Regions from separate parts of the Homo sapiens genome. Here region 1 is linked to region 2. The links come from fine-mapping of genetic effects on gene expression. A gene starts in region 2. The other region holds a variant in brackets. All regions are shown on one strand. Distances are from middle to middle.

What was found. PIP is the estimated chance that this variant, and not a neighbour inherited with it, causes the effect. A credible set is the group of variants that fine-mapping cannot tell apart.
Region 1: its variant is the best candidate, but not a certain one, in a credible set for the expression of CALB2 in ileum (GTEx, PIP 0.59).

The regions. Positions count from the first base shown.
Region 1 is chr16:71,010,456-71,013,360 of GRCh38, forward strand. The region is part of intron 23 of HYDIN (HYDIN axonemal central pair apparatus protein); the gene reads right to left. Among named protein-coding and RNA genes, the nearest start is that of VAC14, 210 kb to the left of the region's middle. The variant T/C (reference allele first, on the strand shown) is at 1,355.
Region 2 is chr16:71,357,348-71,360,252 of GRCh38, forward strand. CALB2 (calbindin 2) reads left to right here and starts at 1,376. Exons shown (of 11, transcript NM_001740.5): 1 at 1,376-1,539. The coding sequence starts at 1,446. RefSeq lists an enhancer at 1,107-2,072 and a silencer at 1,175-1,404.

The sequences.
Region 1 (2,905 bases), 350 kb before region 2:
AGCTGCCTCTGGAGTGCTCAAATATGGCCTGGTATCAACATCAGAGAGGCACCCATCTCCTCAATTTCTTCAATAACAAAGCGGCCTTAGCATCCTCACCACATTCCTCTGTGGAAGGCACCATTATTAACCTCCTTCATTTCACACAAGAGCCGAGGCTCAGGGAGGCTCAGCCACCCAGCAGGGTCACATGGGGCAGGTGGCTGAGCCAAAGTCTGACTCGGACACCAGCACCCTGAGCTACCCAGGGACAGCTGTGGTTTAAGGGTACTTAGTGCCTGCCCTTGTGGGATTCAATAAAGTAATGCTTATTCTGAAAGAAAAAATAATCACATTTCCCCTAAACATTTTTATTTTCTTATTGGGCCCTTGGGCAGAACAAGGAACTGCCTCTAAGCCAAGGTCTGGGCTTATCTGGCTGCAGGGAGGAGTGACAGGTAGGGAGGGGAGGCCTGCCTGGCCCTGGCCCCCTTAAGCCACACACAGGCCACAGCAAAGCTTGGCTAAAGCCTGGCTTTGGCCTTGATGAATGCAGCCTGGTATAAGAAAAGGATTTTCTATCATTTGTTGGAAGTAAAAGGAATCTGGGTCCATCTGTGGTTGTCTAAGGACCCTAGAGCTCCTGTAGGAGGACCCGTAGGAGGACCCGTAGGAGCCCTTATAGGATTCCGGGGCTGCTTCACTTAGCAGCATTTGGTACAAAGGAAGAGACCCTTAGAGAACCTAAAAACAGCCACCAATTTGGGAGTGCTTGGCATGTCTCAGGGACATATGCATGTTAAGATACACTTCATTTAATCCTCACAGCAACTCTTTTAGACTACCATTTTACAGGTAAGTCAACTGCAGCACAAGGTCACATGGCTAGGAGGAGCACAGCGCTTGGATTCTAACCAGCCACATCTGATTCGGCAGCCCAGGACTCCAACTACCACTAACACACCACATCTTAGAAAAGTTCCACTTTTGGTCCAGGAACAGTGGCTCACACTTGTAATCCTAGCACTTCGGGAGACTGAGGTAGGAGGATCACTTGAGCCTAGGAGATTGAGACTAGCCTGGGAAACATAGAAAGACCCTGTCTCTACAAAACAAACAAACAAACAAACAAAAAACAACAAAAAAACCAGAAATTAGCCAGGTATAATGGTGCACGCCTGTAGTCCCAGCTACAGTAGTCCTTGGCTTGTGCCCAGGAGTTTAAGGGTGTGGTGAACTAAGATTGTGCCACTGCACTCCAGCCTGGGTGACAGAGCGAGACTTTGTTTAAAAAAAAAAATCTACTTTTGAAGCAACAGAAATTGAGGAATGATGAAGACATAGATGGAAGCATCCAGAAAATGAGGCTCCTTCT[T/C]CAGCCTCCTTCCAGGCCTTCCACCCTCCTCTTCCAATCTCCATATTGGCTGGCTGGCGCTCATCATAGAAAAATCAGTGTGAGAATAACATGTTCCTTTGCTGCAGGACTTGGCTCCCTTTAGGCCCTTGTATTCGATTTATTTATAATCTGATTCACAAACGAAGAGCCAAAGCTGTCCGTGGAGACCACTTGGCCCACATGCTCTAAGTTCTAGTGCGGCCTCAGCTTCCCCGCTCTGAGACTGGGCAGAGATGCCAGCCAAGCCAGAGGCTGCTCGGCTCCCTGACGGTTGGCTCTCTAGTCTGGCCTCTTAAAGGTAAAAGCTGGTTCAAGTGCACCGTTTCCTTGTGCTTCTCTTTCACACAGGTGCCATGAAGCATTGTGTTGTTATCAAGCTGATCAGTTAGACTGAAGAGATGGACCTAATAAAAGGGTGGCTCCTGCAGCGACAGCTGTGTGGTCATGAATGGCCAGCCCCGGCACTTCCTGCCAGCTTTCTCATTACATGCAGATGTGGGAGGGGGAGAGACCACCATCCACCATGGTTGACCCAGCTTCCTGTCACGGGCACAAACTCACAGGCTTCAAAGGCAATGGCTGCCTTTTCCTCTTACCGAGGACTTATTTAGCATGCTTGTCCATTTTACTTCTTTCTTTGTTCTTAGATGTGACATGAGGGCCAACTTGGGGAAAAAAATGTGAGCTCAAACAAGAGGGATGCTTTAAATAGATGAGTGAGAATTGCCTACAAAGTCACATGCACACATGTGCATGCACACGCACCGCAGATGTACATGTGTTGTGAAGGAACATGAGAGTGTCTAGGCGACCTCAGACCTATCTAATAAAAGAAAAAGAAAACCCTCTCTTACACTTCTGTTTCTTTTACTAACTGTAAGGCTTAGAAGAATCCTAACTGGATAAGAAAGGTTAGTGTTCGTGTATGTCTGATAAAAGTGACCTTTAGCCACTTTTATGTGGTTTATGTTTTTCAGACGTCCTACACAGAGACAGTCTGTCTGGAAACCAGGTGGCTTTTTTTTTTTTTTTTTGTCTATTCTAGGTGACATTTATGCCTGGAACCTTTCTCTTTGGCGGGTGCCAGGAAGCTGAGAGAGAGGAATCTCAAGCCAGGTATGAAATGATCTCCTTCTCTCTACAAATACCCAGGTGGGAGCAGCTGATTCACCAAGAAACACCCTTTGAGGATGTACTCTGTGCTGGGGACTGTGCTGGGCTCTGGGGCTCCAGAGGTGATAGGGCAGGTGTGCTTGCTGGCCTCACAGGGATTAAGAGATGCTGGGAAGATGGACACCAAGCCATAAGCAGAGGCGTGATGTGAATCACCAAGGAGATGGGAGTACCAATGTCCATGACAGGGGATCTGGCCTAAGGATGGATCTTGGAGAAGGCTTCCCTGCAGAAGGATGGTGAAGCTGAAGTCTGAAGAAGGGGCAGGGACAGCTAGGTGGGGCTGGGGAGGAGCTTCCAGCAAAGAAGGGGGCAGTTGGACAGGAACAGCACTGGGCAGGACAGAGGCCGGTGTGT
Region 2 (2,905 bases):
AAGTAACTCTAAACACATTCACCCTAGGCAAAGAACAAGTGGTTTTGGAACCTGCATTCTCTATTGCCCCTTTGAGACTCGCTCTGGGCTTGGCCCTCTCTCCAAGGGACAACCCTCTCTCTGTCTCCTCCTGGGTTCCCCTCTCCCCCAGCGACCTCCTTTTCATTCTCACTTACCTCCTTGCCTTTCACTCTCCTCTTGGAAGGTGGTTCAGCTAACACTCATTAGCACATGTTAAAGATCGCCAATTCATGTCTCAGTCACTCCGTAGCAGGAGAGGGGAGAAAGGAGGGATGATGCTGTCACTCTGTGGGTAATGTGTCTTACCTTACCACACCACAAGGCCAGGACAGACCCCTAAGGGCTCAGACCGCAGGAGAGAATGGGGAGAGGGCCCAGCTCCCTGCTGGGGAGTCCTGTCTGCTGCCCTCAGGATGTGCGCTCAGTAGCTGCGTCTATTTTCTCTGAGACCAGCTCAGAACATCCCCAAGACAGAGTTGGACGTTGTTCTCTGTCCACTGGAGCAGGCACATTCCCACGATGTCCCTAGGTGGGCGTGGTTAAGACCTGGTACGGGTTGATCTAGTTCTGCCACCCCCTGGCCAAATGTCTAAAAGCCCCCCAGAGCATGGCCAGCGTGAGGCAGGTACCAGGGGTGGAGGGAGGCTCCGAGGGGACGGATATACGAAGACCCAAACAGACAGTGGAAGCCCCCCACCCCCACCCCACACCACTTCCATCGGAATCCTCCCGGGGCACTGCTGATTCCAGCTGCTCCCCACTAAAGCCTTGAGAACTCTTGGCTGCTCTGCAAGACTGAGCCCCATGAAGGAGCCACGTGCGGCGTGGAAAGAGTGCTGAGTTCAAATTGTAGCCCTGCCACTAATTTGCTGGGCCAGTCACTTAATCATCTGAAGTCACAAGTACCTCATCAGAAAAGTGGTCCCAGCTCTTCCTGCTGTGGAAGGATCAGAAGAGAGGAGGCACGACAGAGACCTAGTGAACTCCGAAGCCCGAGTGCTAAATATTTGTCAAGTTTGTGTTAGTATTACTATTAGTGTTGTTACTGCTGTTATTATTATTGCTACTGCCAGCAATAATAAGTGGTGGATGTACTCAAGACGGTCGGGAGGGAAGGCAAGGGCAGCCTCTCCCTCATTTTCACCGAAAATCCTCCGGGTGTCCCTGGCCCCGCGCCGAGGGGTCTCAGCGCAGAGGTAAGGGCCCTCTAGGAGTCCGGGCCGAGCCTCTCGCGCCGCCGCCCCCGCCGCGCCGCGCCCCGGTCGGATTCCCTGAGCGCGCGCGCCCCCTTCTGGCGGCCGGGCGCAGGCGCAGGCTCCAGAGCGTATATAAGGGCAGCGTGGCGCACAACCCCAGCGCGAGTGCCAGAGCCCAGCCGGCGCGGAGCGGGAGCGGTGCAGGCTGAGGTCTCCGAGCGGCTCGCCATGGCTGGCCCGCAGCAGCAGCCCCCTTACCTGCACCTGGCCGAGCTGACGGCGTCCCAGTTCCTGGAAATATGGAAGCACTTTGACGCAGACGGTCAGTAAAGCTCCCAACTTCTGTGCCCATTGGCACCCAGGGGACCTGCGGTGAAGGGGGCAGGGGGCGGCGCTGAATGCGGGCAGGTGTACGTTTGCCCTCAGGAGGTGGTCTGGTCGCAGAGCCTGCTGGGGTAGTGGTCCCGGGTTTGGGAGACATCCGGCTGCTCTGGGCACAACTGTCAGTAACTTTCTTCCCTAACATAGATGACCCAGAGCCCACCCGCATTTGCACCTTTATTCTGAGCAAGTGGGAGCTTTCTCAGAGAGGTGGCCTGGGCTGGGAAGGCCTCCAGGTTCCCCCTGCCATCTCCCCCACCTCCCCTGCCTTCAGCTGCTCCAGCCACAGGTCTCAGAAGACCACTCATTTCTTTCCTCCTCTTCCCCTTTTGTTGAATGCTAGGTTAGCCCCCTTACCCTGCTGGAGGCTGGGATAAATTAGGGGATCCTGAAGGGAAACGTGGCCTCCCCAGCTTGATTGGCTGGGAGCAGGAGTGGAAAATGGCATTGGGGGCCCTGAACACCCCCCTGCTTCCTTTGTCCATTTTCCAGCCGCCGTGGGCATGTAGGTTTCCCAATACAGCAGCAGTGGGTGTGGTGGCGGGCAGCGTTGGGGTGCCAGTCCCAGACCTGTTCCCTCATAGTGATAATCCTGGGTACTCTTGGTGACTTCATCTCTGGGTAGGGGGAGGCACCACCCTAAGTGCCTCAGTGACTAACCCTCTGCTCTGTGTGGTCTTGACACTGACTCACCCAAAAAGCAAGGGCCAGACCAAATGACCTTTGGAGGTAGCCCCCAGCACTGGGATTCCAAGTGTCTGTGGTGGTCTGACTCAGGCATAAAGGGTGGTCCTCCTTTAGAGGCTTTTGATATCACTAGAGACTCTGTTTCTGTTACTCCGAAAAAATAAGTGATCTGATTTCCCTCTCTACGCACAGACCTGGCTAAGATGAGCATCCAAAATATCCTGGCATCTCAGACATTTTGTGGTGTCTGTAGCTACCCTCCCCTCGGGTAGCTAATGGCTCCTGGAGGGGCTGACCCCAAAGGGAGGCCAACGGGAAAGGCTAAGACAGATGCTGTCTCCAGAAGACAAGTTCTTAACCACTGCACTGCACAGCCCCCCAGGGGGCCAGGCTCAGCCTTGTGGGCTCTGACACCTGTCATTCAGGCCCCTGTCCCAGATCTGTGTGGGATGACAGGGAGTTTATCCTGGGGTCTGAGAGCAAGGGGGATGGAAAACAGAGGGGCATCAGGTGTGCCTCACTCCATTCTTCCCTCCTCCCTTCCTCGCCTTGGCAGGGTGTGGAGGTGGCTGGGCAGAGATCCTCTGCCCAGAGTGCTATGGGGAGGCAGGGGTTAATGT